Regions from separate parts of the Homo sapiens genome. Here region 1 is linked to region 2. The links come from fine-mapping of genetic effects on gene expression. A gene starts in region 2. The other region holds a variant in brackets. All regions are shown on one strand. Distances are between the middles of the regions.

Region 1 (2,500 bases), 22 kb after region 2:
CTTTGGCATTTTTGCTGCTGTAACAAAATATCTGAGACCGAGTAATTTATAAGGAACAGAAGTTTACTTGTCATGGTTCTGGAGGTTGGGAAGTCCAAGATCAAGACGCCAGCAAGGTTGTTTTCTGGTGAAGGCTGCAATCTGCTCCCAAGATGGTGCCTATGTTGGGGGGTCCTCTGGAGGGGCAAGAGCCACGTCCTCACACAGCAGAAGGCAGAAGAACCAACGAACAGTGCTCTCTTCAACGTAGAGCTCTTTTATAAGGATGCTCATCCCAAAGACCATACATTGATAGTACATTGGGGATTTCAGCATGAATTTTGGAGGGGAAACCATCATTCAAACCATAGCAGGAAACTGACTTGGAAGTAGGGCCTTTGCAGATGTAATCAGTTAAGCTAGAATGAGGTCACATTGAAATCAGGTGGCCTTCAAATCAAATGACCGCTGTCCAGGCGCGGTGCCTCAGCCTGTAATCCCAGCACTTTGGGATGCTGAAGGCGGGGGGGGGGGGGTGGTGTGGATCACTTGAGGTCAGGAGTTCAAGACCAGCCAAGCCAACTTGGTGAAACCCCGTCTCTACTGAAAAATGCAAAAATTAGCTGGGTGTGGCGGCTGGCGTGCCTGTAATCCCAGCTACTTGGGAGGCTGAGGCAGGCGAGTCACTTGAACTTGGGAGGTGGAGGAGGTTGCAGTAAGCCCAGATCGTGCCACTGCACTCCAGCCTGGGTGACAGAGTGAAACTCTGTCTCAAGGAAAAAAAAAAAGAACAAACAAAAAAAACAAAAAAGGAAACCTAGCATCACTAAAATTCCCAATTATTACTAAAATAGCGTTTGTGTGTGCGTGTGTGCGCGTGTGTACGTGTGTGAACGTGTGTGTGCGTGTGTGTATGTATGTGAACGTGTGTGCGTGTACATGTGTGCATGTGTGTACATGTGTGTGCGTGTGTGTACGTATGTGAATGTGTGTGGGTGTGCGTGTGCATGTGTGTACGTGTGTGTGCGTGTGTACGTATGTGAATGTGTGTGTGGGTGTGCGTGTGCATGTGTGTACATGTGTGTGTGTGCATGTATGTTTGTGCGTGTGGCAGTGGAATTGTTTTTATCACGGACATTTCAAGAGGAGAGGTTACCGCAGAGAATAGTTGAGCTCTCAGCACTGCTACAGCCAGGACAAGAGTCAGCCCCTATTGCTATCAATTGTATATATTGACGGCTGGGTACAGTGGCTCTCACCTGTAATCCCAGCACTTTGGGAGGCCGAGGAAGGAGGATCACTTGA[G/T]CTCAGGAGTTCAAGACCAGCCTGGGGAACATAGTGAGACCCACCCCCCACCATATCTACAAAAAATTGAAAAAGAAATGAGCTGGGAATGGTGGTAGGTACCTGTGGTCCCAGCTACTCAGGGGGCTGGAGGATTGCTTGAGCCTGGGAGACTGACGCTACAGTGGGGTGTGATCGTGCCACTGCACTCTAGCCTGGGGGACGGAGAGATATCCTGTTGCAAAAAAAGAAAAAGAAAAGAAACTGGTTGGAGTGATGGAGCAGGATCTAGAGTCCCTTCCAGGGGCAGATGGATCCCATAATTGCCTAATGGGATAGGTGGAGGGAGGGTCTTGAAGGCAGGTAGAATAATAGACCCCCAAAGGTGTCCACATCCTAATTCCTGGAACCTGTGAATATGGTTCCTGACATGGCAAAAGGAACTTTGCAGGTGGGATTAAATTAAGGATCTTGAGGCTGGGCTCGATGGCTCACGCCTGTAATCCCAGCACTTTGGGAGGACAAGGCAGGTGGATCACGAGGTCAAGAGTTCAAGACCAGCCTGGCCAAGATGGTGAAACCTCATCTCTACTAAAAATACAGAAAATTAGCCAGGTGTGGTGGCAGGCGCCTGTAATCCCAGCTACTCGGGAGGCTGAGGCAGGAGAATCGATTGAACCCAGGAGGCGGAGGTTGCAGTGAGCTGAGATCACACCATTGCACTCCAGCCTGGGCGACAAGAGTGTAACTCTGTCTCAAAAACAAACAAGGCCAGGCACTGTGGCTGATGGCTGTAATCCCAGCACTTTGGGAGGCCGAGGTGGGCGGATCACCTGAGGTCAGGAGTTTGAGACCAGCCTGGCCAACATGGCGAAACCCCGTTTCTACTAAAAAAACAGAAATTAGCCAAATATGGTGGCAGGTGCCTGTAGTCCCAGCTACTTGAGATGGGGAGGCAGGGAGGATTGCTTGAACCCAGGAGACAGAGGTTGCAGTGAGCCGAGGCTGTGCCACTGCACTCCAGCCTGGGCAACAGAGTGAGACTCCATCTCAAAAAAAGAAAAAAAGAAAAAAGATAGCAGTCTTAGTCTCTCTGTCTCTGTCTCTCTCTCTCTCTCTTCCTCTCTCTCTCTCTTCCTCTCTCTCTCTCTCTCTCTCTCTGTCTCTGTCTCTGTCTCTGTCTCTGCAAGATGTGGGAGGTAGCCAGCTGGGCTGCTATGGAAATCTGTCTCACTAT
Region 2 (2,986 bases):
GCCCAGCTTCAAAGGCAGAAATTTTTGTCTGTTTTGTTCACTGCCATATCCCCAGAACCTAGAACACTCTCTGGCAAATAATAAGCAATCAAGAAGTATTTGTCTAAGAAAGGAATGAATTCTGATCCCAGTGAGGCTCGTAACCAGACGGCAGAGCGCCTGGGGCGAGGAGGTATTACAAAACTCGTGCCAAGTAAGGAGAAAACTAACAGCGCCGTAACACTACTCAGGTCCCTCCCGGCCCCGGATTTCTATGACCGGCGTTCTAAAGTGGATAATCCTAGGCTCATCGGGTTCAACTCCTCTCATCTAACGGATCCTAAGAAATCCGAAAGGGAGAGGACTTTGGCTCAAGGTTCCCAAGCTAGTGGTGAGCAGACAAGGATTCGAACTGCACCCTTCGAGAAACTTCATGTCTGAAAAAGTTGCGAAACACAAGGGCGCTCAAGTGATCCCACGGTTCAGCCCGCTGCTTGCACAGGTGGGAAACCTGAGGCCGAGGCGGGGACTCCCATTACCTCGATAATCTTGATAAAGCGCGGGAACACCGGGTTGCGGGTGATGGCGATGAGCGGCAGGTGCGGAAACACATCGGGGATCGTCATGGGCGTGAGCGCCGTTATGACCGGGCCTTCCCCGGCGCCCGCGCTGCCCCCCGCGCCGCCGGCTCCTTCCTCCGCGCCGCCCTCGGAGGCGTCCTCGCCCCCCGAGAATGCGCCTCCGCCGCGGCTGCTCGCTTCCCAAAACCCCCGCCATTGGCCCCCAATTGCCGGGCCTCGGCCCCACAGTGCCCAAGGAGGAGAGGCGTCGCAGGTCCGCTGGCCTCGGAGCAACCACGCTCCTGCTGCAGTGGGAACCCGCCCCCCGGCGGCGGCCAGCATCGGCCGCCGCAGCACCCAGCACCGCGCCGCTCCCCACAGTCGCACGTAGCCAGTGCTCGCCGCCATAGCCCGGCCATACTGGCGGCTCACACAACTCGCGTCATTTCCGCTCGCCGCGAAACGCACGTGACGCCCGGCGCGTGCCTCGGTACCCGATGGGCGCGTGGCTCGAAACAGCCGCTTCAGGGAGCTGGGCCTACGCGGAGAAGAGGGGGCGGAGTTCGAGCATCGGATCGTCTCCGCCTCTTCCGGTCTCCCACTTTATGCGCTGAAGGCCTTTTCCGGTCACGTGGAAGGCTGTGAGCAGGCGCCAGCGCCCGTACAAAACACTGGTAGTGTTGCAAACGCAACGTTTAGGAACTCATGAGCAGCCTGTGCACATGCTTAGGCGCGCGGACAACATGCGCATGCTCAGACTCTAGACTGGCCACGGGTGGCCGGGTGCGCATACTCAGGCTCTGAGCGCACTTTGGGGTGCGCGGATTCGGGCTTCCCGGGATTCGTCTGCGCATGCTCAAGATTCAGGCGGAGCGCCGGGCTGCAGTGCGCGGAGGCCCGCTCCCGGGACTCATTGATGCGCATGCGCAGGGCTTCAGCCTGCACGTACTCGGATTGTGCAGCGACTCCCCGTGGCGGTTGAGGGGCAGTGGTGGCGGCGGAAGCCCAAGTCGATGCTGATGTTGATGCTGGTGGCGGCTGTGACCATGTGGCTCCGACCGCTGGTCACAGCTCAGCTCTGTCGGTGGGGCTGCCAGGACTCCTGGGGCTGGGGTGCTGCCGGGGGTCGGGAGGGTGCTGGTTCATCTTGGAGCCGAGGCCTGCTCCCCAACCTCACTGAGGCTCCCCTTTTACTCTTTTTAGGAATCGAACTTGACGCCTCGCTCACCCTACTCCACCCCATCCTCCCAGCCCGATATTAAGCTCTCCTACCTCTTTTTTTTTTTTTTTTTGAGACGGAGTCTCGCTCTGTCGCCCAGGCTGCAGTGCAGTGGCGCGATCTCGGCTCACTGCAAGCTCCGCCTCCCGGATTCACGCCATTCTCCTGCCTCAGCCTCCTGAGTAGCTGGGACTACAGGCGCCTGCCACCACGCCCGGCTAATTTTTTTTTGTATTTTTAGTAAAGACGGGGGTTTCACCGTATTAGCCAGGATGGTCCCGATCTCCTGACCTCGTGACCCGCCTGCCTCGGCCTCCCAAAGTGCTGGGATTACAGGCGTGAGCCACCACGCCGGGCCTAGCCCTCCCACTTCTTTTTCTTTTTGGAGCCGGAGTTTTTGCTCTGTTTCCCAGGGTGGAGTGCAGTGGCGCGATCTCTGCTCACTGCAACCCCCGCCTCCCAAAGTGCTGGGATTGCAGGCGTGAGCCACCGCGCCCAGCCTTACCCAGCACATTTTGAAATTTCAGTAAATGTTAGGTTAGTGCATACTCCAACCTGCCATGGGGACCAGTTGCTGAAACTCCGTTCCTGCCCTCAGGGAACTCCCATCTGGACTAAACTGTCACATTCAGTAGGGACCTGTGAGCTGTATTCTTAGGGTGTATGGCCTCATTTGATGTTTACAGGAAGATTCATAATGATTCCTTAACCTTATTTTATTTTATTTATTATTATTTTTTGTACAGATGGGGTCTCACTGGCTGGGTGCAGTGGCTCACGCCTGTAATCCCAACACTTTGAGAGGTAGAGGTGGGCAGATCACTCACTTGAGGTCAAGAGTTCCAGACCAGCCTGGCCAACATGATGAAACCTCGTCTCTACTAAAAATACAAAAATTAGCCAGGCTTGGTGGCAGGTGCCTGTAATCCCAGCTACTTGGGAGGCTGAGGCAGAAAAATCGCTTGAATTCAGGAGGTGGAGGTTGCAGTGAGCTGAGATCGCACTCCAGCCTGGGTGACAAAGGGAGACTCTGTCTCAAAGGAAAAAAAAAAAAAAAGAGATGGGGTCTCACTGTTTTGCCCAGGCTGGTCTTGAACTCCTAGGCTCCAGTGATCCTCCTGCCTCAGCCTCCCAAAGTGTTGGGATTACAGGCATGAGCCACCCATGCCCAGCCATACCCTTATTTTATTTTTTTGAGATGGAGTCTTGTTCTCGTCGCCCAGGCTGG

What was found. PIP is the estimated chance that this variant, and not a neighbour inherited with it, causes the effect.
Region 1: its variant is the best candidate, but not a certain one, in a credible set for the expression of CATSPERD in sun-exposed skin (GTEx, PIP 0.70).

The regions. Positions count from the first base shown.
Region 1 is chr19:5,741,284-5,743,783 of GRCh38, forward strand. The region is part of intron 7 of CATSPERD (catsper channel auxiliary subunit delta); the gene reads left to right. Among named protein-coding and RNA genes, the nearest start is that of CATSPERD, 22 kb to the left of the region's middle. The variant G/T (reference allele first, on the strand shown) is at 1,285.
Region 2 is chr19:5,719,186-5,722,171 of GRCh38, forward strand. CATSPERD (catsper channel auxiliary subunit delta) reads left to right here and starts at 1,452. Exons shown (of 22, transcript NM_152784.4): 1 at 1,452-1,623. The coding sequence starts at 1,553. LONP1 (lon peptidase 1, mitochondrial) reads right to left here and starts at 961. Exons shown (of 18, transcript NM_004793.4): 1 at 519-961. The coding sequence starts at 947. RefSeq lists silencers at 571-650, 781-830 and enhancers at 642-1,158, 1,111-1,210.